Linked DNA regions of Homo sapiens: all the other regions are reported to be linked to region 1. Evidence: microRNA targets listed by miRTarBase, many of them from high-throughput screens and not tested one by one. Region 1 holds a microRNA gene; each other region holds the end of a gene's coding sequence.
The links. Region 1 holds the annotated microRNA hsa-miR-4441 (ACAGGGAGGAGAUUGUA, at 3,237-3,253, shown strand). A microRNA usually pairs through its seed, bases 2 to 8, with sites in the 3' UTR of a target mRNA and lowers its output. Matches are read on the target gene's strand: a 7mer-m8 pairs with bases 2 to 8, a 7mer-A1 pairs with bases 2 to 7 and ends in A, and an 8mer does both.

Region 2: miRTarBase lists ZNF3 as a target of hsa-miR-4441. Seed matches in the 3' UTR shown: 7mer-A1 at 994-1,000.
Region 3: miRTarBase lists ZNF496 as a target of hsa-miR-4441. Seed matches in the 3' UTR shown: 7mer-A1 at 3,432-3,438 and 7mer-m8 at 2,883-2,889.
Region 4: the mRNA of CAMSAP2 is a reported target of hsa-miR-4441. Seed matches in the 3' UTR shown: 7mer-A1 at 3,068-3,074.
Region 5: the mRNA of ELL is a reported target of hsa-miR-4441. Seed matches in the 3' UTR shown: 7mer-m8 at 4,294-4,300 and 7mer-m8 at 4,233-4,239.

What each region holds. Positions count from the first base shown.
Region 1 is chr2:239,083,978-239,089,080 of GRCh38, reverse strand. MIR4441 (microRNA 4441) reads left to right here and starts at 3,155; the gene lies at 3,155-3,254. HDAC4 (histone deacetylase 4) reads left to right here. Exons shown (of 27, transcript NM_001378414.1): 19 at 1,467-1,522; 20 at 4,839-4,926.
Region 2 is chr7:100,067,005-100,072,107 of GRCh38, reverse strand. ZNF3 (zinc finger protein 3) reads left to right here. Exons shown (of 6, transcript NM_032924.5): 6 at 1-2,135. The coding sequence ends at 965. Among named protein-coding and RNA genes, the nearest start is that of ZNF3, 12 kb to the left of the region's middle.
Region 3 is chr1:247,296,044-247,301,146 of GRCh38, forward strand. ZNF496 (zinc finger protein 496) reads right to left here. Exons shown (of 10, transcript NM_032752.3): 10 at 1,372-5,103. The coding sequence ends at 4,476. Among named protein-coding and RNA genes, the nearest start is that of ZNF496, 33 kb to the right of the region's middle. RefSeq lists enhancers at 2,880-3,779, 3,780-4,678.
Region 4 is chr1:200,857,430-200,862,532 of GRCh38, reverse strand. CAMSAP2 (calmodulin regulated spectrin associated protein family member 2) reads right to left here. Exons shown (of 17, transcript NM_203459.4): 17 at 1,829-4,779. The coding sequence ends at 4,474. Among named protein-coding and RNA genes, the nearest start is that of GPR25, 13 kb to the left of the region's middle.
Region 5 is chr19:18,440,276-18,445,378 of GRCh38, forward strand. ELL (elongation factor for RNA polymerase II) reads right to left here. Exons shown (of 12, transcript NM_006532.4): 11 at 4,949-4,993; 12 at 2,388-4,593. The coding sequence ends at 4,477. Among named protein-coding and RNA genes, the nearest start is that of ISYNA1, 4.7 kb to the left of the region's middle. RefSeq lists enhancers at 403-522, 683-742 and a silencer at 1,536-1,585.

The DNA of each region.
Region 1 (5,103 bases):
TGTGGATCTGAAATCAAATCGTGGCCTCCTCCCCCTCCGTTTTGTTTAACTGAACCATTAGCCCTTCTTGGAGATCAAATCGATCCTTCGTTCATGGGTGATTGGTAGCACCGTGCGTTGGTCATTTGGAAACTTAGCTTCACGGAGTTACATGGATCTTCCATATTCTGACCCATACAGTATCAAAAAAGTCATTAATTTTTGAAACCATTAATATCACCCCCATCTCACCAGAAGTCTTATAAGTAGTGAGAGAGCCAGCAGGCTCACAGGGGCAGAGCCGTGTGTTCCAAACTTGTAATTTTCACTGGAAAGCTCACAGTTTCTCACGCTTCCTTCCCGTCTCTTTACTCGGGATGTTAAAAGGACGTGTTTGAGGGCGGAGATCTACTAAAATGTCTGAATACTGCTTCATCGAGCACATTGTTAAGAGAAGCTGCTCACACACACACACACGCCCTGGTGCTGTTCCCTGCCCGCCGTCTACCCTCCGGTGCTTCAGCACCATCGGCGCAGGTGTCAGGGCAGTGAAAAGAGTACATAGAGCCTCAGGACTACGTGGACTACAGACCCTCAGCAGGGGTCGGGACCGAGGGGTCTGCAGCCTACACTCGGAAGCACTGAGTGCAGAAACGCAGGGAGGCCAGGGCCTCTTGAGAGCGTTTGCCGCCACCTCATGGGCTGCCCTCGCCCCTTCCTGAGCCTGGTCCCTGCGGCGTCCGGCTCACCCCGTCCATGGCATTGTCACTCATGGTTGGCCGGCACTTTTTTTGAGGCTTCATTACAGACCTTGACCACACAGTGTCCTGTTGCTGGTGAGACCAGGAGAGGACTGGAATCCATTTTTATGGCAGCAACTACAGAGTGGTTTGCAGATGGATTTTTGACGCAGAAGTGATGGGGCAGAGGACAGCGTTTCTGCCCAGTGTGAGAGGAGCTGTTTCGTGGGCTGCCCACTTGCCCGCCATCCTGAGAGCTGAACTGCAGTAAGGACAGAGGCAGTCACGTGAAGGCCAAGCTGGGACACAACGTCTCTGCCCCGCGGCCAAGTCCTTGAGTGGGGCCCCTTCTGCTTCATCTTCCTCCAGTGGCCACCTAGCGGGTCCTGGTCCCGAGCCGACGGGGAGTGAGCACATCCTTTCCACATCACCCCGACCCCTGAGCCAAGGGCACCACGCCTCACCGACAGTTCTGAGAGTGGGCAGGCACCCACCTGTTATCCTAGTGACTGCGTTTCGGGGGAACCATTAGTAGCCCCCAGACCTCTTTAGGAGAAGGGCCCAGGCTTCCCGGAAAGGCTCCCAGCTGGCCCTGCATCCTGTCCCCATCACTGTGGCCAGGGTGCAGCAAGAAACTGTCCTCCTGTGTAGCCCAACTCTGCTAAAAGTTGAGTGTGCAACCATTTTCCCGTGGCTACAAAGTGTGTCTTTTGTTGCTCTCTCCTGGCTGTCTGGTGTCACCTGCAGAATGGCTTTGCTGTGGTCCGCCCCCCTGGACACCATGCGGAGGAGAGCACGCCCATGTGAGTACACGCCGCAGCCCCGCACAGCAGGGGAACCCAGGTCTTCCTTCCCTCCCTTAGGGCTGGGTGGGTGTGTGAGTGACTGCGGGGAGCTGGGCTGCTGTTTGCTGGCCACCCAGGATGTGCCGCATGCCGGCTTGGCTCCAGCTCCTGGGTGTGGAGTGCAGATGCCAAAGTCTGCGAGCATCACTGCTCGGTTATGACGGAGACAGATCAGAGGAAAGGATGGGAAAGGGTCTGTGGAGGTTAGTCCAGAGAAGCCTCTGGTTGTTGAGTAGTTGTCAACACTTGGGAGAGGAAACACCACTCACCCTCAAGTGAGTCACTGCAGCACTTGCTTGTCTAGAGGACTCAGGTCATTTTGCGCATGGCCTTTTAGCTGCCTGCCGAATGCCTGGTACTGACGCAGCAAGCCACAGAGCCACGTCCATGCAGGCAGCTATCCTGATGCTGTTTCGGGTCTTTCAGAGACTGCCGACGGTCCATACAGCTGAGGATCTGGGCAGGGTGGCGAGTGTGGGGTGTGGGTCCTCCCGGATCCATCCCTGTGTGTCCAGAGCCAGTGGCAGGACAGACCCGCAGCTGTCTGTGGAGTGCCTTGCAGCCTGGGTGGTGAATGAATGATCTATCCCGTCAAAGAGCATGCTGTCTCCTGGGACGGTAGCCGCTCTAGTGAGGAGGGGTGGTGCTAGAAAGAGCGTCTCCCCATGCTCTGGAGATGGAGAAGGCGTGCCTGATCTTGCCAGCTTCGGTGAGGAGGAGGTGGCATAGGGCTCTGCCTTGGAGAGTTGGAGCAGCAGTTTGTCAGATGGCAACGCAAGAACAAGTGCAGATACAAGTTCACTATCAGGCTGTGGCCAGGAAGCAGTCAGAACAAGACAGAACCGCAGGGGCCCGGGAAAGGGCCTCCCTGTCACCCCTGGGAAGTCAGGCGTCCACGGAGGGGCCGGCAGGACGTGAGAGATAGTCAGATCCGCGTGTTAGAGCAGAATCTCCTTCACGTACAGGGAGGAGACTGTACGTGAGAGATAGTCAGATCCACATGTTAGAGCAGAGTCTCCTTCGTGTGCAGGGAAGAGATTGTACGTGAGAGACAGTCAGATCCGCGTGTTAGAGCAGATTCTCCTTCATGTACGGGGAGGAGACTGTACGTGAGAGATAGTCAGATCCGCGTGTTAGAGCAGATTCTCCTTCATGTACAGGGAGGAGACTGTACGTGCGAGATAGTCAGATCCGCGTGTTAGAGCAGAGTCTCCTTCGTGTACAGGGAAGAGACTACGTGCGAGATAGTCAGATCCGCGTGTTAGAGCAGAGTCTCCTTCATGTGCAGGGAGGAGACTGTACGTGAGAGATAGTCAGATCCGCGTGTTAGAGCAGAGTCTCCTTCGTGTACAGGGAAGAGACTGTACGTGCGAGATAGTCAGATCCGCGTGTTAGAGCAGAGTCTCCTTCGTGTACAGGGAAGAGACTACGTGCGAGATAGTCAGATCCGCGTGTTAGAGCAGAGTCTCCTTCATGTGCAGGGAGGAGACTGTACGTGAGAGATAGTCAGATCCGCGTGTTAGAGCAGAGTCTCCTTCGTGTACAGGGAAGAGACTGTACGTGCGAGATAGTCAGATCCGCGTGTTAGAGCAGAGTCTCCTTCGTGTACAGGGAGGAGACTGTACGTGAGAGATAGTCAGATCCGCATGTTAGAGCAGAGTCTCCTTCGTGTACAGGGAGGAGATTGTACGTGAGAGATAGTCAGATCCGCGTGTTAGAGCAGAGTCTCCTTCATGTACAGGGAGGAGATTGTACGTGAGAGATAGTCAGATCCGCGTGTTAGAGCAGAGTGTCCTTCGTGTACAGGGAGGAGATTGTAACCGCCAGGGAGGGATGCTTGTTGGAATCTTTGTAGCTTTACCTGAAAACCACGTGTTTGCTCCACATCCCAGAACAGTCACTTGGGCACCAGGCTTCCTGTTTGTTTCATTTCTCTGAAGTTTCTTTTCTAATTTGAACCTGAGTTGTTGGATATTCCAAATAATAAACCTCAGAGGAGACAAACGAATTGTGTTTTGTTGCAGCTCTTCGCTGTGCTCCCCGTGAGCCGCTGCAGGAGCTCAGCGTCTAGGATGTCCTGGGGCGTGTGGGCTTCCCCATGCCAGCCCGGATTCTGAAAACAAAACAACTAGTGTTTCTCCGTTTCTGTGGTCATTCGGACAAAGGGAATTTGAGATCAAGAAGGTTTTCGTTGTTATTTGAATCACTTTCATAGCTTGTTTTCTTGGTCTCTTGAGTAAGACTCTCTAAAATTAAAGGTAATTTATGTATTGGAATATAGGAAGGTCAGCAGGAAGCAACTGAGATGAACGGCTGCCATGTCTCCTGGGGCGTGGCGGCAGCTCCTGAGAGGAAGGGTTCCAGGTGAAGATGAGGGAAATGTTGGTAACATGTGAAATAGGGTTCCCTACCAGAGGAGCGTGGGGGACCTCCAAGCAGGAGAGTGTGTGTGTGTGTGTGTGTGTGTGTGTGTGTCTGTCTGTCTCAGTATGGAACTGTGGATGTGTGTGATAGGTATATGCTTATGTGTATATGTGTGTGTGTGCTTGTATGTGTCTGTGGTTTGTGTGTGTGTGAGTGTTTCTGTATGGGGTGTTCATGTGTATCTGTGCATGTGTGTCTACGTGGGGGGGGTGGGTATGGGCGTATCTGTGGGGCATATATGTGTGTAGGGCGTTTGCATGGTGTGTGTGTCTCTATCTGTGGGGTGTGGGGTGTGTGTGGGGTGTGTGTCTGTGTGGAGTGTGTGTGGGGTGTGTGTCTGTGGTGTATGGGCGTATCTGTGGGGCATGTATGTGTGTAGGGCGTGTTGCATGGTGTGTGTGTCTGTGTGGGAGGGTGTGTCTCTGTGGTGTGTGTGTCTGTGTGGGGTGTACGTGTGTCTCTGTCTGTGGTGTGTGTGTCTGTGGGGGGTGTGTGTGTGTCTCTGTCTGTGGTGTGTGTGTCTGTGTGGGGTGTGTGCATGTCCGTGTCGGTTAGCCGACCCTATGGCATTGGCTAAGATTCCCCAGTGGCTTGTTTGGGAGCTGTGTGTGTGTGTGTGTGTGTGTGCGCGCGCACGCGTGTGAGTGTGTCTGCATGTGGGGTGTGTACGTGTCTGTCTGTTAACCGATTCTCCGGCATCACTGAGGGTTCCCTGCGACGTATTCAGGAGCTCTGCACTCACAGAGACCTCTTAGGTCTGCGTGGACCCCGAGTGGCTCTCTGGCGGGCCGTGGAGAAACTGGCCACCGCCCACCTGCGCTTCGTCTCCAGCGTCAGTTCTCTCCCGCAGGGGCTTTTGCTACTTCAACTCCGTGGCCGTGGCAGCCAAGCTTCTGCAGCAGAGGTTGAGCGTGAGCAAGATCCTCATCGTGGACTGGGTAAGCAGAGCCGCCTTGGCCAGCGCAGCTCAGGTTGCTCCTTTGCCGTCCCCGAGCGGACAGCAGCGTGTGGACAGAGGAGCTGGGCTCTTGGATGTGGGAAGCTTAGGTTTCTGGAAACGGTCTCAAAGATGCGGAGAAGTAAAGCCCCAAACCTGCTACAAGTCATTGTACAGC
Region 2 (5,103 bases), not on the chromosome of region 1:
TTAAAGAAGCCTATGAACGAGAAGTCAGTCTGAAAAGGCCGCTGGGGAACTCCCCTGGAGAAAGACTGAACAGGAAAATGCCAGATTTTGGTCAAGTGACAGTTGAGGAGAAGCTAACCCCCAGGGGAGAGAGAAGCGAGAAATATAATGATTTTGGGAACAGCTTCACTGTGAATTCCAACCTTATCTCACATCAGAGACTCCCCGTGGGAGACAGACCCCATAAGTGTGATGAATGTAGCAAGAGCTTTAATCGAACTTCAGACCTTATTCAACATCAGAGAATCCACACTGGGGAAAAGCCCTATGAATGTAATGAGTGTGGGAAGGCCTTCAGCCAGAGCTCACACCTTATTCAGCATCAGAGAATCCACACTGGGGAAAAACCTTATGAATGTAGTGATTGTGGGAAAACCTTCAGCTGTAGCTCTGCCCTCATTCTGCATCGGAGGATCCACACGGGGGAGAAACCCTATGAATGTAATGAGTGTGGGAAGACCTTCAGCTGGAGCTCCACCCTCACCCACCATCAGAGAATCCACACTGGTGAGAAACCCTACGCCTGCAATGAATGTGGGAAGGCCTTCAGCAGGAGCTCAACCCTTATTCACCATCAGAGAATCCACACTGGAGAAAAACCCTATGAATGTAATGAATGTGGGAAAGCCTTCAGCCAGAGCTCACACCTCTATCAGCACCAGAGAATCCACACTGGAGAGAAGCCCTACGAATGTATGGAATGTGGAGGAAAGTTTACCTACAGTTCAGGCCTTATTCAGCATCAAAGAATCCACACCGGGGAGAACCCCTATGAATGTAGTGAGTGTGGGAAAGCCTTCAGGTACAGCTCGGCTCTTGTTCGCCATCAGAGAATTCACACTGGAGAGAAGCCTTTGAATGGGATCGGCATGAGCAAAAGCTCCCTCAGAGTTACGACCGAGTTAAATATCAGAGAGTCCACGTGAAAGAGCCACACACCCATTTTCCTCACTTTCCCTGAGTCTCAAGAGCTCTTGCCTTACCCTATAAATCTCAACAGCTTAGGATGTGTCCCTTTCAACTCAGACTTTTCATTTTAGAGAATGGGGCAGATGGGGCAAATCGTTGAATTTTCCCAGAAATCACACCAGCCTTAGAAAGCGTCAAGGCAAGTGGATGGCGTGCTGGGAATAGAAAGCAGCTCTGGGACCAGTTACCCCATTTAGGAAAGGAGTTTGCACTAAACTGTTTTTCTCACAGCAGAGGAACCTTTCCAAGGTGGGGATGGAAGCACAGTCGGGACAGAATTCGATGGATTCCTTTAGTTGGAGTCCGCGTAGTCAGCACAGACAGCAGTGGAAAGGACGCTCTGGGTCCTGTTATTTGCTAGGGAGGGTAAAGGGAGACTATTTCAAAGCTACTGTTCCTAGTCCAGCTTTAAGTTTCGGTAAGAAACATGCTGTTTTGTTTCATGATTTCGTTAATTATGGAAATTTGGCATTGAGGGATTATTTTATTGAGGGTAGAAGAGATTCCAGAATCATCATCTGTGATGATGGTGTCCTTTAGGGCTCTTGGAGCAGCCAGACCATGTTTCCAAGAGAAACCTGGTGATATTGCCAGCAGACCCCCTGCCATCCCCCCCAGTTGTCCTGGGGCTGAATGGGCAAATCTGTCCAAACAGCTAGTAACCGGCTGTGAGGGAGAGGGTCAGAAGCACTTAGCGTTGGCCTCTGATTGCTGTCCTCTCTTGTCCTCTTCCCACTCCAATGATGAAAATGATTTTCTCTAAATGCCTGGGTAAGGATGCTTTCAAGGAGCTCACTTGGCCTGCTTGCCCTGCCCTCTCACCTCTGACACCCAGCCCCAGGAGCCAGACCACTCCTGCCTCCACCTCTGACTCTTCAGCAGCTGAAGATTAATGCAGAGAAAGAGCAAAGCCCAAAAGGGAGAAAAAAAAAACAAAAAAACAAAAAAACGAAGCCCAGAGAAGGCAGGCTGTGCCTGAGCCTGGTAGCAGAGCTCGTTGCTGGGTGAGGATGGCACTCCCCGAGTTTTCCCAACCGACGGGATGACCTTCCATTGTGTTTTCCCAACCCTGCTCATCCTGTAGCATAAATGAAGTGCACTATTAAACAGAATAGTTTTTCAGAAGAGATTGAGTGTGGTTTTGTGCAATGTTTGGACCATATATTTCAGTTAAAACAAGACATGTTGGCTGGGTGCAGTGGCTCATGCCTGTAATCCCAGCACTCTGGGAGGCCAAGGCAGGCAGATCACCTGAGGTCTGGAGTTCTAGACCAGCCTGACCAACATGGAGAAACCCCGTCTCTACTAAAAACACAAAATTAGCCGGGCATGGTGGCACATGCCTATAATCCTAGCTACTCAGGAGGCTGAGCCAGGAGAACTACTTGAACCCGGGAGGCGCAGGTTGTGGTGAGCTGAGATCGCGCCATTGAACTCCAGCCTGGGCAAGAAAAGCGAAACTCCATCTCAAAAAAAAAAGACAAGACATGTTGGTAACTATAAATGGAATTTGAAAGTTGACTTAATTTTTTTTTTTTTTTTTTTTTTGAGACAGAGTCTAGCACTGTTGCTCAGGCAGGAATGCAGTGGCACCATCTTGGCTCACTGCTGCCTCTGCCTCCCGGGTTCAAGCACTTCCCGTGCCTCAGTCTCTAGAGTAGCTGGGACTACAGGTGTGCACCACCACGCCCCAGCTAATTTTTGTATTTTTAGTAGAGATGGGGTTTCACCATGTTGCCCAGGCTGGTCTTAAACTGAGCTCTAGCAATCTGCCGGCCTCAGCCTCAAAGTGCTGGGATTATAGGCGTGAGCCACCATGCCTGGCCCTAAAATTTCTTTATAGGCTAGGTACAGTGGCTCATGCTTATAATCCCAACACTTAGGGAGGCCAAGGCAGTAGAATCTCTTCAGACCAGCCTAGGCAACGTGGCAAGACCCTATCTCTACAACAAAATTAAAAAAAAAAAATTAGGGCTGAGCGCAGTGGCTCACAGTTGTAATCCTAGCACTTTGGGAGGCCGAGGTGGGCGGATCACAAGGTCAGGAGTTCGAGACCAGCCTGACCAACATGGTGAAATGCTCTCTCTCCTAAAAAAAAAAAAATTATATATATATATCAGCCAGGTGTGGTGGCACGTGCCTGTAATCCCAGCTACTCAGGAGACTGAGGGAGGAGAATCGCTTAAATGCAGGTGGCAGTGGTTGCGGTGAACCAAGATTGCTCCATTGTACTCCAGCCTGGGCAACAGAGTGAGACTCCATCTCAAAAAAAAAATTAGCTGGGTGTGGTGGTGCACACTTGTGGTCCCAGCTACTCGGGAGGCTGAGGTGAGAGGACTGCTTGAGCCTAGGAAGTTGAGCCTGCAGTGAGCCCCTGTGATTGCACCACCACACGATAACAGAGCAAGACAGTCTCAAAAATGAAATGAAATTACTTTATAGATTGCCATTTTTTTTTTTTGAGATGGAGTCTTGCTCTTGCCCAGGCTGGAGTGCAGTGGACCAATCTCGGCTCACTGCAACCTCAGCCTCACTAGTATCTGAGATTACAGGCGCCCACCACCACGCCCAGCTAACTTTTGTATTTTTAATAGACAACGGGATTTCACCATGTTGGCCAGGCTGGTCTTGAACTCCTGACCTCATGATCTGCCTGCCTCGGCCTCCGAAAGTGCTGGGATTACAAGCATGTGCCACTACGCCCAGCCTATGCAAATAAATTTTAAATCTGTGTTCTCATGGCTGTAATCCCAGCACTTTGGGAGGCCAAGGCGGGCGGATCACGAGGTGAGAGTTTGAGACTAGCCTGGCCAACACGGTAAAACTCTGTCTCTACTAAAAATAGAAAAATTAGGCTTGGTGGCACATGCCTGTAATCCCAGCTACTCGGGAGGCTGAGGCAGGAGAATCACTTGAACCCAGGAGGCAGAGGTTGCAGTGAGCTGAGATAATGCTGCTGCACTCCAGCCTGGGTGACAGAGCGAGACTGTCTCGAAGAAGAAGAAAAAAACCTGCCCATGTCCTGATGGCTCTCCCAAGCCTCAGTCGTGGGTCTCCAGTGGACTGCAGAGCAGTTACACCTGGACTTTCTACAGTTTCATAGTATGTTTCAAACCAGATCCCACTTTCCCATTTATTGCCCCCTCTTAAAATTTCTGTAAACCTGTCAGGATCAAAATTTTGTAAGTTTTCTTTGATTATACTCCTCATCCTCCTCCATCTAACCAGCATCAAGCCTGGGCAGGTTCAGTAAAGATGGAGTGGAATGATACTGTTTTCAGAGTTGAGATTGTAGAGGAGATGGGATTTGCAAGTGATGGTAGCAGTAGCTGATACATGGCATATACTCTGTGTCAGCGTTGCCTGGCTCTTTTCCGAGTGGTTTTCATGTATTAATCAGCTGGGTGCAGTGGCTCACGCCTGTAATCTCAGCACTCTGGGAGGGTAAGGCAGGAGAATCGCTTGAACTCAGGAGTTCAAGCCCAGCCTGGGCAACATAGTGAGACCCAGTCTCTACAAAAATAAAAATTAGCTGGGCGTGGTGGCACACATCTGTAGTCCCAGCTACTCAGGAAGCTGAGATGGGAGGACTGCTTGAGCCCAGGAGTTGGAAACTAGCCTAGGCAATATAATGAGACCCCTGTCTCTCTGAAAAGAAAAAAATCCAATACTTGGCGAGGAATGATGGCCTACAGTAAATGAGGTAGAGCTGCTAAAATGATGAGCAGAGAAAGGGTGTCAGCAGACTCAGCGTGTGTTAAAATGAATTTCTTACACGAGATCTGAGAACCAAACACCTATGTTATCTCGGAAGGCCCAAATAGCTTCCCGTTCACTCAGACAATAAAGGATGAAGTGAGGGGAGCACCGGGATTGTTCAGTGACAGCTGCCTCAGCAGGGTTAATAGTAGGAGATTCTGCCACAGAACAGAGTTCCCTGTTATTAATGGGATGACTGGTCAACAGAGGCCAGGCGGCAGCACTGAGCTATCACAGGCAAAGTGGACACAATTACCATGATGGGCAACCAGGCCAGAGTGGCAACTAGGGTGATTTTTTTTTGAGATGGAATCTTGACACTCTGTCACCCAGGCT
Region 3 (5,103 bases), not on the chromosome of region 1:
ACAGGGAATTTCTATGGCTTCTCTGTACTTTGCTAATTATATGCACATTAATCATGGTGACCTGGTTACAGGCTATGGTTTCAAGAGAAGATAAAGTTCCCAATTGGTATCTGATGGGCAAAACAGGTACAGATGGACCCCCTGGGCTTTGCCCCTGTTGAGCTCATGATCACTACTAACCACCCCCCAGATGCTGGGCCACTGGCACTCTATCAGCTGCCCTATACATGGGTCTGGGCTGCTAGAGGTACCTGGTCTTCCAGTGGTCCCTTCAACAGTCCCTTTCCTGTGGCCAGTCTGCCCTAAGCAAGTTTTCTAACCTCTAGCCTTGTTGCATGGACTAGTAGTGGGCACTGACCGTCACTTTCAAGACCAAACAGTATCAGTGTTTGTTGCTAATACTAAGTGTGTCTGGAGGCTGGGTGTGGTGGCTCAGACTTATAATCCCAGCACTTTGGGAGGCCATGGTGGGAGAAGCTCAGGAGTCTGAGACCAGCATGGGCAAAATAGTGAGAGCCCGTCTTTAGGGGGGTGAAAAAAAAGTGGGCTTATTTGATGGAATTGCTGAAGTGCTATAATCATCGCTGAATCGTCTACGTAACTCTGCAAGCAGAATTACTTCTATCTGATCCAAACTCTGCTTTTGGCAGAGGAAGGGAAACCATCTCACAGGAGAAGAGTGACTTGGACAAGATCTCCACAGGCTTCAAAGCTGGCCTTCTCTTTCCTTTGTGCCACAGTATGATTTAGGACTGATAGGGACCCTCCCACCAATGGCCTCATCTTTTTTTATTTGTTTCTTCTTCTAGCTGAGGCAAGAGTTGGGGAGATAGAGAAAAGAGAAAAACGACTAAGGTTGGCTTAAAGCTGTGGTGTGACCAGGAGTACAATCTACTCCCAGCGTATGAAACAGTTATTTCTTCTTCTTTCTTTTGGGGAGGGGCCAGATCAGGTGACCAGAACTATCTAAAGCCTGCAGGTCTTAGAAAACATGTTTTGGCTGTGCTTCACATTTTACTTTTTGTTTTTTGAGATGAAGTCTTGCTCTGTCACCCAGGCTGGAGTGCAGTGGCGCTCCACCGTTCATAGCAACCTCCACCGTTCACAGCAACCTCTGTCTCCTGGGTTCAAGGGATCTTCCCCCACCTCAGCCCCCAAAATAGCTACAGGCATGTGCCACCATGGCAGGCTAATTGTTCTATTTTTTTCTTAGAGATGGGGTCTCACTATATTGCTCAGGCTGGTCTCAAACTCCTGACCTCAAGCAATCCTTCTGCCTCGGCCTCCCAAAGTGCTGGGATTACAGGAATGAGCTGCCACGCCCAGCCACATTTTACTTTTTAAATGAAAATGAAAAGCCTAACAGGAATATTGACTCAGCAAGTTTTTATTATGCACCTGTGGGTTTGTGACGATGCCAAGGGATCAGAGGAACAAAGAGAGAGGATGTTGCTCAGATGGGGGTCTCAACCTCCAGAGCAAGGTGGACACAAAGCTCCAGCCAGCTGCCCAGCCCCTGGGGTGGGAGGGAAGGATCGAGGGGTAGCTGTTGTCAGATAAGGCCAAAGGTATCAGTGGCCAAAAGGGAGACAAAGATCTCCTGGGTGCAGCCTCCTCCACCACTGTGGTGAAGGGTGTTGGGCTGGAGGGTTGGCCGACCTCTCCTGAGAGCACGTTCCCCCTGCTGCTCCTGCTGCATGGCATCAACCTGGGTTTCAGTTACATTACCCAGGAGGATTTCCAAATCCAGAGGCAATGTGGCCTTCCATTTCCTGAGGTGCCTTGGTTGGCTCTGGATCAGTGGTGGGGACTCAAGAGACAGCCTCCCTGTGGCTTCCAGCCCCTCACATTCCCTTTGTCGCTTTCTCCTTCATGATGTGGTTTTACACAGAAAAACACTCTGGTAAGTAGAACAGTGTTCTTCTCTTGAGTCAGACGTCTGAAGCAGGAAGGTGAATAACCTTCCCAAGACCTTAGAGCTACAGAGAGAATCCTCAGCACAGGTAGGAGCACACAGGTAGGTGGGGTAAACGTGTACAGAGAGCCTGGCTTCTACTTGGAATTTTCCCCTCCCTTGGCCTTAAAAATCGGATTTCTCCCTTTTCCAGCTATGTTGATACAAGAGACAAACTATTTAGAAAGTAAAAGCCTCAACCGTTTATTTTGTGTTCAAAGTATAACCAAATGATTTTATTGCATTTACTGCTCCTGGGCATGCAGATGCATCTACACAGAAACAGCAGTTGTGGTTATAAAATCTTTTAACGAGTTTGGGGCAGAGGCTTTTTAATTATTTTTGAGACAGAGTCTCATTCTGTCACCTAGCTTGTGCAGTGGCATGATCTCGGCTTACTGCAACTTCTGCCTCCCAGACTCAAGCAATCCTCCCACCTCAGCCTCCAGAGTAGCTGGGACCGCAAACGTCAACACCACACCCAGCTAATTTTTTGCATTTTTGGTACAGACGGGGTTTTGCCATGTGGCCCAGGCTGGTGTCACTGAGCTAGGCAATCCACCCACCTTGGTTTCCCAAAGTGCTAGGATTACAGGTGTGAGCCACTGCACCCAGCCCAGAGTTTTCCTGATGTGAAAATTACGTGAGTGACAAGGAGCACCAGGAGCCTTGCCTGACTTACTGTCTGTTGGTAGGATGTGACATATGAATAATACAAAATACCCGTCTGGTTTGACTTGCAGATTAAATCACTGCTAGACTACAGCCTTGATGCCCTCTCTTGCTGACCCTAGCCAACATAACCAGTCTTCCAGGAACAATACCATGTTTTAAATTGCTTGAGGTTTCACTACCTGCTGTCACTCTCAGTCCGGAATCCCAGCAGGAGACACAGCTCCAGCTGGCCTGCCCAGCCCCCATCAGAAGGCAGGGAGGAAGGGGAATTTGTCAGCGTTTACGGCTATTGAGTATGATTCTTCCATGCAGAGGACACCTGCCCTAAATGCTGAAACTTGGGTCTGAACCCTGCCTTTGATGGAATTGTGAGCAAGCTCACTCAAGTTTGTATTGACTCATCTGTAAATTAGGAATGATATAGCATACCTCACGTTTATCTGGAGTCATGGGCTGAATGCTGTCCCTTTCAAATTCCGATGTTGAAGTCCCAACCTCTAGTACCTCAGAATGTGACCTTATTGGTAAACGGTTGCTGCGGATACAGATGAGGTTATACTGGAGTCGGTGGGATGGGCTCTAATCCGATATGACTGGTGTCCTTAAACAAAGGGAGGTTTGGAGACAGACACGCACACAGCAAGAGTGCCATGTGGAGATGAAGGCAGAGACTGGGTGACGCTTCCACACACCAAGGAATGGCAACTGCCAGCAAAGGCATGAAGCCGCTTCTCCCTCACAGCTCTCGGAAGGCACCAACTCTGAGGACACCCTGATCTTGGACGTGCACCTCCCAGAACTGTCAGGGAATACACTCCTGTTGTTCTAAGCCAGCCAGTGTTTGGACACACCAGCACTCCAAGCTAATGTATCTATCAAGTGTGTTGTCAGGCAAGGTTCTGTTCTGGAGCTTGGCTCACCCAGACAGGAGAACCCCTCACTGGGGGCAGAGCTCCACATTCCTAGACAGGACAGATTGGAAGAAGGGACTTAAGTGCCTTTTAAACGATGACAACTCCGCTTCCAACCCACAAGCATTTACCAAGGATCTTTGGGGTATAAAGACATTATGGGGTAGGTGTGCAACACAAATTAAAATGTAAGCTTTGTTTTTGGTGAGCTCCAGATCCCTAGTGATTGGCCCCCAGGAAAATCAACAGGTATGACGACTGTTTCCAAACCTCAAGAAGGAGCTCTGCAGACCCCTGCCACAGAGGCCAGCCCAAAAGGGCTGCCTGATCATCTTGGATCTGCGGGGTGCTCCTGCCTACCTGATGGCCACGAATCTGGGGCTCAGACATGACATGTCTGGCTCAGTGTGCCTGGCCCTGCTCCCCACTGAGCCCATCAGTCCCACCCTGCCTTCTTCTTTCCTCTAGTCCAACATCCGCCAGCAGCTTCTCAGTGGAAGTGCAGGCATCCTGGAGCTTCAGGAGCAGATCCTAGCGTTCAGACAGGGAAGGAGGGGAGGGAGTATACTGAGGTTTGGCTGGTGACCAGGGTGCCGCCCTGACGGGGGATAGCCCAGTTTTACTCCCCGAGCTTGGGGAGCATGGGCCAAGGGTCTCTAAGACGCAGAACACCTGGCATGTCCAACCTGGTGATGGCACATCCCCCCCGTTTTTTGGCACAGCAGAAACAGAACACTCACTTGGCCACTCTTTCATTACCTGGGGGAGGGAGAGTGCTCCCATGGCACCACCCGAACGCTCACTACCTGAGAGCAAGGACAGGAGGGAGGTGTGCTCTCTATCCTGGGGAAGGTATGTCCTGGGTGGGGGCGCTGATCAGTACCAAGGTGAGGGGGCAGCACCAGCCAGGGTGAGGCCGCCCCAGGCGGAGAGGCTCAGTAGGAGTTCAGAGCCTGCTTGGAACGGCGCTTCATGTGCAGGCGCTCGTGGCGGAGGAGGTCATAGTTCTGCGTGAAGCTCTTGACGCAGTACCGGCACTGGAAGGGCCGGGCTTTGTCCTTCAGGTGAAAGTGGCTGCGGTGCCGAGCCAGGTGGTCGTGCCGCTGGAAGGCCTTCCCACACTCACAGCACTGGAAGCTCAGTTTGGCCTTGCCGTTTTCCAGCGGCTCTTTGGGACCCTTGTCCGCGTCCTCGGATGCCGCCTGCTCTCTCTTCTCCACCGGCTGGAGTCTGTCCGGCTGCAGGTGTATCCGCCGGTGGGAGAGCAGGTGGGAGTTCAGGCGGAAGCTCTTCCCGCAGGCACCACACCGGTAAGGCTTCTGGGCCTCGTGGCTCTCTAGGTGCCCATCCAGGTCCTCGCTGTCGCTGAACAGCTCCCCGCACACCGAGCACTCGTGCGGCTTCTCCTGCTCCCTGCGGCTCCGCAGATGCCGGATGAAGTTGACCCTCCAGCGGAAGATTTTCCCACAGTTCGGACACACGTAGGACTTCTTGGAGGTCTGCACCTCGCCTCCGGCCTCGGTGCTGCTCCGGTGGGAGGCGGGGAGGCTGCGCTGCTTCTCT
Region 4 (5,103 bases), not on the chromosome of region 1:
ACATATCACCACAGTGATTTAAACACATGTACAAAACTAATCTGTGTTGTCTAAGCATGTGGCCTTGAGTTGCTAGAAGACCTACATGCCCACAGGGGCAAAAAGGAAGTGACTGAAACTAGATTCTAGATCTCCTTATTTGAAGAGCAACTCTGACATACCAATCTGTGTACTTCCCCCACCCCCATCAAATTAGGCAAAATCATTAATATCTCATTTGTTTCTTTTGAGAAGATACCTATTTCTTAAGCATCTATATACTTCTAAGGGACGACAGAATTTCACACTCATTTTATAGATGTGTTTCTCCAATAGCCAATTCCTAGGTCATAACATTACAGCTACATTTCCTTTGCTGAATTTTATTATCATCTTTCTGTGTAGACAGATCATGAAATAAAGGTGTTTGTTCCTATTCACTACAGAATATTTTCCTCTGCCCTAGTTAAGAAGTATCAATTTCAGTCATAAGGCAACACATTCTTATTGTGTGGGGGCTCTAGGGTTTGTGTACACTTTTTTTTTTTTTTTTTTTTTTTTTGAGACACAGCCTCACTCTGTCACCCAGGCTGGACTGCAGAGGTGCGATCTTGGCTCACAGCAACCTCCGCCTCCTGGGTTCAAGCAATTTTTCTGCCTCATGTTCCTGAGTACCTGGGATTACAGGCGTATGCCACCATGCCTGGCTAATTTTTATTTTTTAGTAGAGACAGGGTTTCGCCGTGTTGGCCAGGCTGGTCTCAAAACTCCTGACCTCAAGTGATCTGCCTGCCTTGGCCTCCCGAAGTGCTGGGATTATAGGCATGAGCCACCACCATACCTGGCATTGTGTACATTTTTCTAATGTTGCCTGGGTCTTAGGGTTTTTTTTTTTTTTTTTTTTGAGACGGAGTCTCGCTCTGTCGCCCAGGCTGGAGTGCAGTGGTGCAATCTCGGCTCACTGCAAGCTCTGCCTCCCGGGTTCATGCCATTCTCCTGTCTCAGCCTCCCAAGTAGCTGTGACTACAGGTGCCCGCTACCAGGCCTGGCTAATTTTTTTTGTATTTTTAGTAGAGACGGGGTTTCACCATGTTAGCCAGGATGGTCTCGATCCCCTGACCTCGTGATCCGCCCACTTCGGCCTCCCAAAGTGCTGGGATTACAGGCGTGAGCCACCGCGCCCGGCCGGGTTAAATATTTTTATTTCTGAAAATTAAAGTACTGGAAATATTGTGGAAATATAGCTGTGCTCTGAAGTTACAGAACCTATCAAAAAGGTCCCAAGCTAGAAAACCACATTTATGTCTACTAACCAGATATTTCTTCAGGTATATAATTAGGCATGACGATTATTTTATAGTTTTGTTATCAGATCTCTTTTTTCTTAAAAAACACCTTTTTCTTTACTCTGTTCTGAGTAAGTAGAATCAGCAAAATCAAAGTGAAACTTACAAAATAATGGTCAAGAACTAGCTTCTCATGGCTACTCCAGATCAGTGAGTTCACTGGCCATTCAGTTTCAAAGACATAGAGCACTAGTTCTGGTACAATATAACTATCAATTCACCAAAAGATAGTGAATTAGTATGAGCAAGATTAACATAAGATAAGCACATTTATAAATCATACTATGTAGACCGTCTGTGCTAAGCATAGAAAGTTACCGACTTTTTAACATTGCCCTAAGTTAGTATTTTTAAAAGGCTAATTATTTCAAGTTGCCTGTTATGAATATTCAAGTTATTAAATTTAAACATAGGTTAGGGGATAGAAAAACTGTATGAGTTATCTCAAGTTCAAATAATTTTACCAAAAACTACATTTTATTCAAGAAACAGAAAAGGAGTCATTTGGTGCCATGCTTTTATTCAAATGAAAGGGGAAAAACTACACTGTACCAGGAAATAGCAAGTATGACAGTATTTTACAGCACAGCATCTTAAAAAACAAAAAACCTGTAAGCAATGCTCTAGAGTGGACAGGTAAGCACACCATACACTGTACATTGCTCAACAGTGTCCATGAAACCATAATTAAATAGCTGAATTTGGCTTTAAACAGCCAAATAAAACTGTAACAGTCATTCTAATACAAAACGGAAAAACCAAGAACTAAATCTTTCCAAAGCTGTGTCAAATAGCAGAATTTGACAGGCTGCACTGGTAACCACGACAAATGTTTGGCAAACTTAATGGAATAGTTATCATAATAATTTGACCTCTGATGATGAAAGCACCAGTGTGTTTCAGTAAGGTTGACGAAAATCCTCAGACTTTATGAAATGGCATATTTTTCAACTGTATAATTTTAAAAACATAATTAAAAAAAAGCTGCACCATAATAAAAAAATCTGCAGACTTAAAGAAATATATCCATATTCCTTCTGCATTAATAAAGTAAAATCTTATACTGAGAGCAATGAACTCTGTGGCAATATTCACATTCTACCTTTAGACCTTATAGACATTCAATTCAACTGTTGGACACACACAAATTTAAGAATAAAGGGTGGTCCTGTTTAGTTTTAAAGTTTCTCCATTGTCTTGCATCCAATTTTCTTTATTTAATAGCGAAGTAATATCACAAAGATTGCTTTGATGAGGGAAATTTAGTTAATATTGAAATGAACAAATTTAGTAACGTAAAATGCTTATTAAATTATCCTTTTGACTACTATTCACATTTTGATTAGATTCATTTATAATTTTTTAAACTAGTTTTAATCTAAACGTGTATTTGACTATCATTTCCTTCTAACTGTGATAGAAATTACTGTCCAAAAGGTAAAATGTGCAATTCCCCATTTTTAATATCCATATGTTATATACACAATATGTATACACTTAAAATATAAGAGTTACATATCCTGGTCTCTTACATGCAAACAGTAGATCACAAATAGTTTTGAGCTACACATGTATCTTGCACAGGTATTGGAAAAAAATCTGTGAAATTTTTTTACAGTTTTAACAAATATACATAAATATAAGAACATAAATTACAGTAAAATATTGACAGCATTTGAGAAAATGTTGATAACCCAGATGCACTGATGCCTAAAGGCCTTATAATAATAGAAAAGTACAGCTCAGGGACATCTCATTCCTATTCTTTTTTTTAAAATAAGTAAATACATCATATGAGACATTAGTTCTTTCTCTAAACAACTCAATTAGAGAAATGTATATATTTTTATCTCTACTTCCCATGAAAGAAAACAAACTACGCATCTCATTTATGATACAATACTGTCTTCCCCCGCTAGTTTACACATTTGTCACAACACTGAAATATAACAGGGTCACATAATCATTCAAGTCTTTTCCTGAGAATGAAGTTTTTCCCCAACTAACCCTCTGGTATACACTGTTAAAGAACAAAGATCATGTAGAGGAGATTTCAAGTGTATACTTATTCTAAGCCATTCCACTTGAAAAGGATTAAAATGAAGAAAAACCCAATATAAGTAAAATAATGTGAAGCTATTTTAAAATTAAAATGTAGCCCTTTGTACATGTTTAAAAATTCTAAATATAATTTTTATATGAGTTATAAATATAATGTAAAGACTTCTTGAGAACTTGTTTCAGGAAGTCTTACATCTTCAGATTGAAAGACTACTCTCAAAGTGTCATTCACTTCTGCCAACTTATAAAGTGACTTACTTTAAAAGAGATAGAAAGCCTTTTTTGTTAAAAGAACAATCTAAATTATTCTGAGTTGGCCAGAAGTGGTGTAAAAACAGCACTGATTTAATCAGCAACTTCTCATAACATATTCTTGGTTAAGCTCATGTGGTTTAAAGCGAACCTACTAGCAGCTCTTTACAACACCTCCTCTTATTTAATAGAGAATGTTAATACTTGAGTGAATAATAAATAGAGTTGTAAATACTTAGCAGAATAATTTTTGCAAATGCTGTAACACCATTAAAATATGAGGGTTACTGTAAAACTAAACACTAGTGTTTCTCTTAACATCATAAGAAAGGTGCGAGTTACTTCTAAAGGTATATTTCCTACTTTCATGATCTCCACATGAAATAAAATACAAAGGTATCTTAGAATAAACCCCCAGGAGAGAAAAATAGCAAACCATCTGAAGACAAGAATATACATTAAAAGGTTAAAAAAAAGCAACAAATAAAACACATAATTTGTAATCTTAACCATATTTCAATGATAAATCCAACTAATATCCATGAAAATTCAGTGCTTTAATGTATCTAATATCAAGCAGGTGAACCTGATAACACATACAAATCTCCATTTGTGAATTAAAACATTTCCTTCATCATTTGGACTTATCACTTAATTGAGAATGTTCTGCACTCCAAAATACTGTGGTTTACATTCCAGTTGTTCATGACAACAGAGCTTAATGTCCAGTTTTAATTAATAAAAGTCTTGTTGGCAATTAGAAAGATTTTCTATAGGCAGGAAAGATGAAGTGCAAATTTACCATGAATGTTCTGAAGCAAGTATTTCCCAACTTCTATGCCTTAGTGGGTAAAAGTTTTTTGGGTGTTACTGGTCTTTTGGTCTGCCATAAATGGCTATGAATGGTAATTGCATCAACACTGGCAGATAAAGTTTTAGCGGGTATGTGGCTAAACTGTTTCCTGTCAGAATTATATTTGTAAAGTCCTTCAATCATTTTTTTAGTGATAGATTTAGGGCCTATCCCAGTCAGTTTATTGATTTCTTCAGTTTCTGGGCAATAAGTGTATAAAGATCTGAACTGGCATCCTGAATCCCGGAACAAGATTAAGAAGTTGTTGGCATCTGATTTCTCCATTTCCTTTAAAATAAAAAACAAAAACAACATAACAACACGAATAAAAACCCTTTATTTTGCTGAATAAAGTTTATATAATTATGTTACGTTTCTTAGTCACATTTTATAACATTATTTCAATGACAAATCTTAAAGCCTATTGCTAGTCTTTAATAAAATCTGCAGGCTTCCAGAACCTAATGTGAAAATAAACTAAATCTGATAATTAAAACATCTAGCTACAGATCTTTTTACATGCTGTTGAAAGTCTAGGCCCATGAGAGTACATTCTCTTGAATGGATAAAAGACTTCTACAGTTTGCCAAATTTAATTTTCATGCAAACATG
Region 5 (5,103 bases), not on the chromosome of region 1:
AGTTCTGTGAGCTGTTCCAGCAATTATCAAACCTGAAGTGGGGTCATGGGAACTCGCAATTTATTAGCCTGCTTGCCAGAAGTATAGGTGGCATCTGACACAGGTGCAGCCCTGTGGGACTGACCCCCATAACTTGTGGAGTCCGATACCATCTCTGGGAATGGAACTGTTGGACATCCTGTAGGTACTGGAGGATCAGAGAATCGGGGAGTTTGTGCCTCGAGGCGACACGTGATTCAGGAACCTGTGTAGTTGAGAGACATGAGGAAGGTCCCAAGACCCAGCCCCGGGGAGCCTGTGTTCACAGGGCCACCTGTAGAGGGTGCCGGAGGATGGGAGCTGGCACAGGGCAGCTGGAGGGAATCGGCATAGAGGCTGGGCTGCTTCCACTCCCAGCAGTTGACAAGGCCGAAGGAGGGGGTTTGGCCCCTACAGTCAGGCCTGGGTGTGCTGAAGTCGGTGGTGAGATGCACTGTTATTCCCCAGCAAAGTGTGGGCTCCCTGAAGGCAGGGATGAGGCTGAGTCACTGCTGTGTTGCAGAGCCCAGGTGGAGCTTGGTACAGGAGGGGGCTGCAGGAACAGGGGTGCCCGTTGAAAGAGGACAATTGGGGCCCCTGGCAGGTGGCAGGAGAGGGTTTAACAGCTCTGAGCCCCTCTCTACCAGGGTGCCCAGGTCATGAGGGTGGGAAGGCTCTCCTGAATATCCGGGGCACTAGACTGATGGCATCCATGGCTCAGGAAGGTCAGGGGACTGACTGTGGCCTCTGCAGGCTGCGGGGGTGATGGCCAGAGTATTGCTGGGCAGTTGGCTTAGGGCTGGCGTTGGAGGGCCGGGGGAGGCAGGACCGTGAGCTGCAGGAGGTTGGTGTTGGCCCTGGGATGTTGGGACAGAGATGTTATCCTGGGAGAACAGCGTGGCCAGGCTATGCTGGGAGCAGGGTACACGCTGCCCCACTGGGCTGCATGACTTCCCCTCCCGCGCCCCTCAGATTCCTGGGTGGCCTTAGAACTTGGGCCAAGGCCACGGACGGGCAGGGAGGCCAGGCCCCCCCCACAGCTGCAGGCCCAGGACCTTTGCCCACGGTCCTATTCTTCGGTGTTATCGCTTACTAAATGCACCCCTTCTTGTCCTTGGCTGGCAGGTTGAGTGTTATGTTCTCCATGGCCCCTGGCTCGTTCCACCTGCACCACCGCCGCTCCCGTCAGGCCTTTTCCCCATCCCCACTAGTGGCACAGGGGATGCCCCTGCCCCAGTGTGGGAAGAACAGGTAATATTACCGTTACCTGCTGCTGCTTTCATCAGAGGGAGACAGTCACAGCTGGTTTCCCCCACCCCCAGCCCCACTCCTGTAGCCTTTGGTGCCACAGGGGGCCAAGGAATCCCAATGCTGGGTTCAGCCCACCCTATCCACACCAGAGGGTACTGCTGTGCTCACACACCTGCTATGGCTCCCTATCCCTCCGCCCTGACCCAGCCTGCCCCCACCCCCGCGCTCCCCGTCACCTACAGGGCCCTCTGATTTGGTCCTTTCTCAGGCAACGGCTCAGGTAGGCTGCAAACTCTGCCTTCTTATCTGGTCCCAGCCAGAGCCCCTGAACAACCCTTTCTCATCATTATGGCGGCCCCAGGTCACATCACCTCCTGATGCCAGCCCACCCCCAACCACAGGACAGGGACAGCCACCACAGAAACCAGGCTGTGACACACCCACACACTACACACACACCCACACCCCAACACACACCACACACCCAACACACACACCCCCAACACACACCACACCCTCACACCACACACACACCTACACACCCCAACACACACCACACACCACCCAACACACACCACACCCTCACACCCCAACACACACCACACATCCGGTCAACACACACCAACACACACCACACCCACACCAACACACCCCAACACACACCACACCCACACACCCCAACACACACCCACCCTCAACACATCCCCAACACACCACACACACCCCACACCACACACCCCAACACACACCACACCCTCATACCACACACCCAGATACACCACATCCACACACCACACCCCAACACACACCCACATCCCAACACATACCACATCCCAACAAACACCACATCCTCACCACACACATCCCCAACACACACCACACACCCCACACCCCAACACACACCACACACAACACACCCACACATACAACACACACACCCTAACACATCACACACACTACACACCCACACACAACATCCAACACACACCGACACAGATATACTACACACCCACACACCCCAACACACACCACACACACATACACACCATACACCACACACACAGATACACCAACACCCACACACCACACACACCAGCCAGGCAGCCTGGGCTGCCAGGTTCAGTTCAGTGAAATTTATTGGAGAATGAAAAAAGTCAGCATTCACCTGTTTAGTGTACAAAAAGGACACTAGATCTTTTAAGAAAATATCAGGAAACTGAAGACGCAGATAGATGCCTTTCAATTGTAACATTTTGGCAAAAGTGGAAAGTTCTTGTAAACACCAACCCCATGGCTCAAAATAGTTTTTCTCCACAGTACAACATTAAAAGAAAAAAAAATAGTATCAATAAGTTAGACCATATTTAATCAGCTAGAACTTTGTCCACCAACCCCCAAAACACAAAACTTTTCTTAGCTTCATAATTCCTTAAAAGGAGAACAAATAAACAACAAAAACAACAACAACAACAAAAAGGCAAATTCAACTGACAGCCCCTTGGACTGGTTCCCAGGGCAGAGGGGCGGGCAGTCCCGGGCTGGGACCTCCTGAAATCATCCCACCTCACCGGTGTCTGCAGGGCTGCCTGCGGGCGACACAGCAAGGTCCAGCTGACTCTGGAGGCCTCCTGGAGCCTGCTCGGCCCTTCCCCGGCCCGGCCCGGCCCAAAGAGAAAAACAACAACAGCTATTGAAACATGAAGGATCAGTTTCCTCGGAGCTCTGGGAACCCGGGGGTCCCAAAGGAGAGAGACTCTCGGGCAGGGGTGGGATACACTGTGGGCCCTCCACAGTCAGCTCTTTGGAAGCTGTCAGGAGGCACCCCTCCACCCCCCAGTTTAGAAAAATAGACATCTGTATTTTTGCATTTCTGTTCTCCCTGCCTGACTGCTGATGGCAGCAGTGACCCCCATGTGATCCCTGGGCCCTGAGTCACAGCCGCCATCCACCCCCCACCACCTTTCCAAGTCATGGCTTCATTCAGCCCTAAATGGGAACACACGCCTCAGACCCCACCATGCCCTGGGGGGTCCCCACATACGCACACTCACACACCCACACTTGCGTGGCCCCCCGATGCTTTGGGGGACACTAGACTAGGCACAGCAACAGAGCAGCAATTGGGGTGTCTGCAGAGCCTGCACCCCCAGAGCAGGCAGACCCATCCTCCTGGCTCCCCAGCTCTGCCCATGGGTCCCTGGGGCCTCCCTGACCCCATGGCGCCCAGCCCTCCATCAGCCCCTCCCTGAGTGCAAACCTTGGCGGTGGCTCTGCTAAGACGACCCCAGGACCCACAAGTGGACAGAGGGACGGAGGGAGGCCAGCAGCATCGAGACCACAAGGTCTCAACAGTGTGGAATGAGCAGCAGCAGCAACAAATGGGAAACCGAGGACATCGCAAAGAAAAGTCTGACGCCGCTGCGGCCGAGTCTCAACTTGGAGCACAGAAACACAGTGGCCCCCGACAGCTGAGGGCCTGAAATAGCAGGGCAGGCCTGGGGGCGCTGAAAGCCCTCTGCCCCCTTGGCTCTGAGCAGCTGTCTGGGGGCACCAGCTGGAGTTCTCAAAATAGCCACCTGGGCCACCCTGTTTGCTTGCTGGAGCAGAGACCCTGCCCAAGGAGGAGAGGCTGGGGAAAGGGGTGCCTAAACGTAGAGCCAGAGACCAGCAGAGGCCACCTGCCCATTCCCCACGCCCTCAGAACGCAGCTGCACCTTTCGACGACCTCTGTAATACTGCAGGCAGGACCCAGGGCAGCGGCTAGACCCTGGGTGTCCGAGGAGAGGGAGGCACAGGTTTAGAAAAAAGATTTTGCTTCTCTTTTGTACAAAAATAGACTCAAGTCTCATTAGCAGTAGCTAAAAGTGGCTGTCTTTGTATAAAACTAGAAAAGGCAGGCGCGCCACCCCAAGGGCCTAGGAGTCTTCTGGCGAGACAGGAGGCTGAACCCCGGAGGCTGCAGCCAGGGAGGAGGCAGTGGGCTTCCTGGGGAGCCCATCATAAGCAGGGACTGCTCAGGAAGCGCAGGGAGGGCCGAGGTGGGCTTGCAGCCACCCGCCAGGGCCAGACGTCTGCAGGGGCTGCCCTGAAAGCCGGCGGTGCTGGCTCAGATGAGCATCTTCCTCGGGTTTATTTTTTTAAATAAATCCTCTCTCACCGCCTTTTGCTCCCCCGACCCTCCCAGATCCCCGCCATCGGGGAGGGCGGCTAGGGCCAAGCCTGCAGCTGCCGCTGGTCGTACTCGGCGATGAGCCTCTTGATGTGGGCCAGCTTGCTGTGCAGGTACTCGCAGCGGTGCTTCTCCTGGCTGTAGTTGGTGTTGGTCTGTGGGACAGCACAGTCATGCTCAGGACAGAGCCGCCCTGGGTGCTGCTCCCCGCTGTAAGCAGGCCAGTGTCCCCCCCAAACCAAAAACCTGGGCTTGGTGCCCAGCAAGGAGGGTTGTGGTCCAAGGGCAGAGTGGGAGTTGGTCCCCCGCACCTCCACAGCTTGTGTGGCTGGGCCAGGATGCCACAGCTGAAGACTTAGCTGGGGGTGGTGGGGCAACTTTGGCCTCAGACTCAAAGGCTCTTCCCCCACACCTTGGAAGTAGCGGGCAGGGAGGCTGCCCCGGGCCCACCCTCCTCCCTCCAGCTCCCATGGCTCACTTGGAGCCCACCCCAACACAAGAGACACTCACCTTTTTGATTTTTCGATATTCCTGCAAAATCTGCCCTCGAGTAGTCTAGAAGAAAAACAAAATTTTGAGAAAACAGAATGTGTCCCCGCCTACAGGAAACCCAAATTGAGTGGTCCCAGGTGCTCTGAGAAGGGGGCATGGGAGGGTGGGGCAGC